Homo sapiens: one gene and its partner. The protein of the gene in region 2 purifies or fractionates together with the protein of the main gene of each other region. This does not show direct contact. Each region holds a gene or a part of one and is shown on either strand. Other genes may lie near its edges. The genes, in order: IGHMBP2 and NELFCD.

Region 1 (3,811 bases), on a different chromosome or scaffold from region 2:
CCCAGCTAATTTTTTGTATTTTTAGTAGAGACAGCGTTTCACTGTGTTGGCCAGGCTGGTCTCGATTTCCTGAGCTCGTGATCTGCCTGCCTCGGGCTCCCAAAGTGCTGGGATTACAGGCATGAGCCACCGCGCCTGACCAGTTCCATCTTTTTGAGATATTAAAGTAAGTTGAGGTTTTGATTATGGGTTGAAAAAATTTTTTTTAATCTCTTGAAAAATGTAGAATAATATGTGAAGCTCAGTCTCTCTATTCGTAAGCTCCTACAACCCAAATCCTGGGGCGGGCAAGCGCTTTTTCTTCCCCAAGATCAAATGCCTGTGTGCAGGGCAGGGCTGGTCCAATTTCTGGTCTCCTCTGAGTTAAAAACGTGGTCTCTTTCCAGGACTTAAAATGTCTCTTCCTGTGACTTCAAGGCAAGTGAGGATGTAAGGTGCTTAGTTGCGTGTGTGTATCTGTGTCTCTTTCAAGGAAGATTTCTGAGTGTTTTTTACGGAGTTTATTGAACTGGACTGAATGATAGAAGCACTTCATAAATAGAGTTGAAGAAGTACAAAGTTGGACTGAAGTAAGTGTATCTCCTTTGTTTTTCTTTATAGGTGAAAAACAAAAAGACCCAGGATAAGAGAGAGAAAAGTAATTTTCGAAATGAAATTAAGCTGTTAAGAAAAGAACTGAAGGAGAGGGAAGAAGCAGCTATGCTCGAGAGCCTCACTTCGGCAAACGTGGTCCTTGCAACAAACACAGGTGAGGGGGCGTCTCCATCCTGCCTGTGTGGCCTCGAAGAAGGAGTTGGGGTGTGTTCCCTCTTCTGTTTTCTGGAAGAGTTTGTTTAGAATTGGTATTTCTTTCTTAAAAGTTGGGTAGGGTTCACTAGGGAAGGCCTCCGTACCTGCAGTTTTCTTCATGGAGAGGTTTTGAACTACAAATTCAACTTCTTCAATAGATAAAGGGCTGTTCAGGTTGTTTTTCTTCCATGAGCTTGTAGCTTTCAAGAAGTTTGTCCATTTTATCTAAACGGTTGAATTTAGAGGCATGAAGTGGTTCCTAATATGCCCTTATTCTTCTTTTACTGTCTGCAGGATCTGTCATGATATAACCTGTATTATTCCTGATACTGGTTTGTGTGCTCTTTTTTTTCCTGCTCTTCTGGCTGGAGGGTTTTTTTTTTTAAATTTAGATTTTATATATACATACATATATATTTTAAGAGACAGGGTCTCTGCCAGGCGCAGTGGCTCACACCTGTAATCCCAGCATTTTGGGATGCCAATGCGGGTGGATCACCTGAGGTCAGGAGTTTGAGACCTGCCTAGCCAACATGGTGAAACCCCATCTCTACTAAAAATACAAAAATTAGCCAGGAGTTGTGGTATGCACCTGTAATTCCAGCTACTTGGGAGGCTGAGGTAGGAGAATTGCTTGAATCCTGGAGGTGGAGGTTGCAGTGAACCAAGATCGCGCCACTGCACTCCAGCCTGGGTGACAGAGCAAGACTCCGCCTCAAAAAAATAAAAACCCCAAAACCAAAAAAACAAAGCAAAACAAAAAAAGAGACAGGGTCTCACTATGTTGCCCAGGCTGGTCTCAAACTCCTGGGCTCAAGGGATCCCCCTGCCTCAGCCTCCTAAAGTGCTAGGATTACAGGTGGACCCACCGCGCCCGGCCTGGCTGCAGGTTTCAATTGATCTTCCCAAAGAACCAGCTTTTGCTTTTTCTCTATTGTTTTTCTGTTTCATGTATTTCCACATTGATCTTTATCGTTTTCTGTTTTCTTGGGCTTGTTCTTTTTCTTGCTTCTTAATGTAGAAGCTGAGATCATTGATTTGAGACCTTTCTTTTTTTCTGATACGAGCATTTAGCTCCATAAATGTCTCCCTAAGTACTGCTTTTGTGGCATCCCACAAATTCTGATCTGTTATATTTCATTCATTTCAAAATGCTATCTCATTTGCCTTTTGGTTTTTTAGAAGTGTTATATAGTTTCTAGATAGTTGGGAAATGTCCAGATATCTTTCTGTTGTTGATCTCTCCTCTCCTCTCCCCTCCCCTCCCCGTCCCCGTCCCCGTCCTGTGTGGGATCTCACTGTGTTGCTCCTCTCCTCTCCTCTCCTCTCTTCTTCTCTCCTCTCCTCATCCCTGTCCCCATCCCCATCCCCGTCGCCTTCCCTATCCCCATCCCCATATGGGATCTCACTATGTTGCCCAGGCTGGACTCAAACTCCTGGGCTCAGGTGATTCTCCCAGCTCAGCCTCCTGAGGAGCTGGGGCTCCCTGCATGTGCCACTGCACCTGGCTTACTTTCTGTTATTGGTTTCTAATTTAGTTCCATGTGGTCAGAGGACATACTCTCATGACTTGGATAGTTCATCGAGACTTACTTTATGGTCCAGAATCTGGTCTCTGTCTTTGTGAGTGTTCCATGCACACTTGATAGAACGTGTGTTCTGATTTTATTGAGTGTTCTGTAAGTAGTCAGATCATGATGGTTGATGATGTGGTTCAAGTCTGCTGTATTGAGAGAGGGACGTTGAAATCTCTGAATATAACTGGACATGTCTGTTTTTCCTGCAGTTCTATTGGTTTTTGCTTCATATCTTTGGAAACTCTTTTACTGGGGTCATAAATGTGGGGCTATGTTTTCTTGATTAATTAACAAATTTATCATTATGAAATGACCTTCTTTATCCCTGATAATATTCTTTTTTTGAAATCTACTTTGTCTGACATTAAAATAATCATTTCAGCATTTCAGCTTGCTTTTCTTTTCATTATGGTCAAAAACCTGTAAAATTTACCATCGTAACCCTTTTTAAGTCTGTAGTACAGTAGCATTAATTGTATGCATGTTGTTGTACAGCAGATCTCTAGAACATTTTCATCTTGCAGACCTGAAGCTCTGGATCTGTTGAACAGCAATTCCCTTTTTCCCTGTCCCAGATCCTGGCAGTCACCATTCTCCTGTCTGTTTCTAAGAATTTTATTATTTTACATACCTCAAGTAAGTGGAACCATGCAGGATTTGTCGTCTTGTGACTGGCTTGTTTTATTTAGTGTAATGCCCTCATGGTTCATCCATGTTGTCCAGCTTTCTTTTTATTTTTAAGAGACAGGGTCCCAATCTGTCACCTAGGCTGGAGTACAGTGGTGCGGTCAAAGCTGTACTCCAGCCTTAACCATGAATGTGGGACCTCCAGCAATCCTCCCACATTGACCTCCTGAGTTGCTGGGATTAACAGGCGTGAGCCATTGCACCCAGCCCCCACCTTTCTTTCAACTAGTGTTAGTGTGATCTATCTTTATCCTTTTTCTTAGAACCTATTTGTGTCTTTATGTTTAAAGTGATCTTTTAAAAAATATTTGAGACACGGTCTCACTGTGTTACCCCTAACTGGAGTTGCAGTGGTGCAATCATGGCTCCCTGCAGCCTCAACCTCCTGGGCTGAAGTGATTCTCCCACCTCAGCCTCCTGAGTAGCTGGGACAACAGACACGTGCTATCACACCCTGCTCATTTTTTTGATTTTTAATAGAGACAAGATCTCACTGTGTTGCCCAGGCTGGTCTGGAGTTCCTGGACTCAAGTAGTCCTTCCACCTCTGCCTCCCACAGTGCTAGGATTACAAGTGTAAGCCACTGTGCCTGGCCTGTTTATTTCTTTTTAAAGAGAGAGTCTTGCTCTGTTGCTCAGACTGGAGTGCAGAGGCGTGATCATAACTTGCTGTAGCCTTGCATTCTTTGGCTCAAGTAATCCTCCCACCTCAGCTTCCCGAGTAGCTAGTACTGTAGGCATGAGCCATTACACCTGGCT
Region 2 (3,811 bases):
CTTACATGTATAAGTGGTCAGAAGCAATTCTTTGGTATTTGATTCACATAGAGACTTTTGACCATTTGCTTTCTAAAGCCACACAGTGAATGGACAGCTTGCCATTGTCTAGTTGCTTTTATTCTCTTTCAGGTGTTGAGCCAGTGCAGGTTCAGGAAACTGTGGAAAATCACTTGAAGAGTTTGCTGATCAAACATTTTGACCCCCGCAAAGCAGATTCTATTTTTACTGAAGAAGGAGAGGTGAGAAATTATTTTTCTTTGCCTAGTACCAGGCCCTAGGGTCTTTTGCAAATTCCCTGTGTACAGTGGAGCGTGGCATATCATGTAAGTAATGGCAGAGTTGAGGACTAAAATCAGAGTGTGAGACAGAAGTTGCATCTAGTCAGAATTGCCCTTTAAACTCTGTACCCAGGGTCGTGACATGCTTGCACGCAAGAGGCACACAGGTGCTGAGATCAAGAGAATGAACAGCAAGTTCCCACCATTTCCCCTCTCAGGCTGACTCCAGGGCACAGCCCTTGGAGTGTTGTGGTGGATTCGTTTGGTTCCTCCAAGAAGCAGCTGCCAAGACAGGGCTAGGCCTGCAGGAGATGATGGGGAAGCGACTATGAGGGAAGATGGGGTAGGGCTGGAGGAGGCTGGGGTAGCTGTGATGCAGTCTGACCCTTGAGGGCAAGAGAAAAGGAATGAGGGTTAGTAGGAAGAATGTTAGGCTGCAGTGCAGTTTCCAGAACGTTCCAGCCATATCAGTGGGGAATCTTTAAGCCACAGGTGCCCATTCTGGGAGCCCACGTCTCCTGGACAGGCCTGCTTTTGAGGCCCTGCTGCATTCCATCTGTGGCTGGGAGCAGCCTCGGGGAGCTGGCCTTGGCACAAACAGGATGGCAGGTTCAGAGCACAGTCCTTGAGGACATCCGTCACATAGGAGAGCTGAGAGAAATGTTTTTCTGGCTACTCCATGTGGTGATGGGCCAGAACACCTGTGCCATTTAAATGGCCTCTTTCTCTTTTGCTAAGGGCATACAAGCTGGGGCAGCATGAGCTCCCTGTGTGTGCAAGGCAGCTCTATGCGGTTCTCGGTGTCTCCTAGGAAGCAACTTTCAGTACCCTCCTGTGTTGAGTCCGATTTTCTAAAAGCTGAGCGGGCATCTAGGGACCTTTCTGTCACTCAGCCGACTGTGTGGCTGTGGCCAGCTCTGGGTCTGCCTCCCCCAGAACTAGATGCCCATGGGGAGTCCATCAGCACCAATCTCCTGTGATCGTTTATACAACAGAATCTCCACTCAAGTAAAAGTGGGGCCTCCTCCTATCTTGCTGTTTGTGTGTGTGTTGGCAGACCCCAGCGTGGCTGGAACAGATGATTGCACATACCACGTGGCGGGACCTTTTTTATAAACTGGCTGAAGCCCATCCAGACTGTTTGATGCTGAACTTCACCGTTAAGGTAGGAAGAGTTCTAGAGTTAAGGAGAAAAGTGTTTATGAATGTTTATTTTTGGTTGTTGGTCTGTTTCCTTTGACAGTTCATATTTGCTTTTTTTCCATAAAGGTCTTTATTGTTTTATTTTCATAAGCCTTACACTGAGAAAGAAAAGTGTAAAATTTGTATCTGTTTTTGGGTCAGTGTTGACTGTGTTTTAGGATTTAGCAGGGATACAAGAATTCTCTTGTGGTTGGAGAGGAGCTTTAGGCGTGCCTGCTTGATCTTCCTCTTGCATATGAAGAAACGATGGAGAGGTGGTCAGCCCAGGGCACACACCTAGGTGATAGCAGGGTGAGGGCGGAGTGAAGGCCTGAGACCCACGACCAGCGCACACTTACTCCACCTCACCATGAACACTGACAAGCCAGCTTCCCGTGGAGGTGCGGTCACTGCATGCCTCCCCTCTGACTTCTTGTTTTGTGTCCTAGCTTATTTCTGACGCAGGGTACCAGGGGGAGATCACCAGTGTGTCCACAGCATGCCAGCAGCTAGAAGTGTTCTCGAGAGTGCTCCGGACCTCTCTAGCTACAATTTTAGATGGAGGAGAAGAAAACCTTGAAAAAAATCTCCCTGAGTTTGCCGTAAGTTCTTTCTTTATGAACCTCAGATTAGAAGGAGGCTGCTTTGGGTCTTGGTTTTCAAGCATGAGATGCTCCTTCCCTGGAGAGAATCTCCATTTCTGAGGGCACCTTCCAGGATGCTCACTCCCGGGCCCGAGCACGGTGGAGGCTTGGCTCTCGTCCGCCCGTCTGTGCTACAGTAGTAAACCCTGCCCCCTCTCTCCCTGCAATCTTGCAGAAGATGGTGTGCCACGGGGAGCACACGTACCTGTTTGCCCAGGCCATGATGTCCGTGCTGGCCCAGGAGGAGCAGGGGGGCTCCGCTGTGCGCAGGATCGCCCAGGAAGTGCAGCGCTTTGCCCAGGAGAAGTGAGAGGCCCTGTTTCTGCTCAGCCCTTCCTTCCTAGTGCTCCCCACAAAACCCTTCCCATGGCCCGTGTTCCACAGCCAAAGCTGCTAGCTCCTTCTGTTCAACGTAGAGGTAAACTTGCTTTTGGCTGGGCGTGGTGGCTCACGCCTGTAATCCCAGCACTTTGGGAGGCCGAGGCGGATGGATCACCTAAGGTCAGGAGTTTGAGACCAGCTTGACCAACATGGAGAAACCCCATCTCTGGTAAACAAAAATACAAAATTAGCCGGGTGTGGCGGCACATGCCTGTAATCCCAGCTACTTGGGAGGCTGAGGCAGGAGAATCGCTTGAACCTGGGAGGTGGAGGTTGTGGTCAGCCAAGATTGCACCATTGCACTCCAGCCTGGGCAACAAGAGCAAAACTCTGTCTCAAAAAAAAAAAAAAAAATTAAAAACTTCCTTTTATCCAGCAGAGCTGGAAAAGTTGGAGTTGTTTTTGGTATACTTGGAGAGCTGGCTTTCTAAAGTGCTGCTTTGAGGACTGTTGTGTAAAGCACTTGATTCGTCTTCCCTTTGCTGGAGTTATGGGCCTGGGCTTTTACACTGGGGTTCTGAAGTAACAAACAAAGTCAGTCCAGAAATAGTTGCTCAGCAATCTCATTGTTACAGTGTCGCAAAATGAGCTCATATTAGCTTTATTTTCTGCTACCAATAGAGTGTTCCTAAGTATTTAAAGTGTGTGACTCCTTTCTTATAGAGCCAGCAAGCTGTATTGGAATCACTTTTCCAGTGTTGTAAATGTTATTTTTGTGGGTCAGTCAGTATACTCGTGAATGACAGAAAAACAGATCCCAACAATGCAAAGTATTATATGTGTAAAAAAGAACAGAAAAAAGAAGCTGCCTTGTTAGTAACGGGGTCTATGGTTTTTCTCATCAAGAGGTCATGACGCCAGTCAGATCACACTAGCCTTGGGCACAGCTGCCTCCTACCCCAGGGCCTGCCAGGCTCTCGGGGCCATGCTGTCCAAAGGAGCCCTGAACCCTGCTGACATCACCGTCCTGTTCAAGATGTTCACAAGCATGGACCCTCCTCCGGTTGAACTTGTAAGTTGCTTCTCAAGAATCCCCAATGTCAGCTGGTAAGGTGACTTTGGAAAGTCTGTGCTTGTCTGATTGTCTGAAGGCTGTGAATGCAAATCCATCATTGTCCTGGTCCTTCCTCAGTCACACTCTCTGCCTGGAGCCTGTTGGGCCCCTGCTGTGTAGGGAACCCTGAGGGGAGGTGGGTGAGCAGTGCCCTCACGCCTGCCATCCCGAACTGGGCATATGCTTCTCCTCAGATCCGCGTTCCAGCCTTCCTGGACCTGTTCATGCAGTCACTCTTTAAACCAGGGGCTCGGATCAACCAGGACCAC

The links.
Region 1: the proteins of NELFCD (region 2) and IGHMBP2 purify together in Homo sapiens (affinity purification with mass spectrometry; one large-scale study listed by BioGRID and IntAct). This does not show direct contact.

The regions. Positions count from the first base shown.
Region 1 is NC_000011.10:68,917,136-68,920,946, forward strand, and holds part of IGHMBP2 (DNA-binding protein SMUBP-2), read left to right. Parts: intron 1-600; coding exon 601-748; intron 749-3,811. UniProt on the Homo sapiens protein: 5' to 3' helicase that unwinds RNA and DNA duplexes in an ATP-dependent reaction. Specific to 5'-phosphorylated single-stranded guanine-rich sequences. May play a role in RNA metabolism, ribosome biogenesis or initiation of translation.
Region 2 is NC_000020.11:58,987,576-58,991,386, forward strand, and holds part of NELFCD (negative elongation factor C/D), read left to right. Parts: intron 1-132; coding exon 133-242; intron 243-1,338; coding exon 1,339-1,446; intron 1,447-1,912; coding exon 1,913-2,065; intron 2,066-2,282; coding exon 2,283-2,413; intron 2,414-3,334; coding exon 3,335-3,500; intron 3,501-3,736; coding exon 3,737-3,811. UniProt on the Homo sapiens protein: Essential component of the NELF complex, a complex that negatively regulates the elongation of transcription by RNA polymerase II.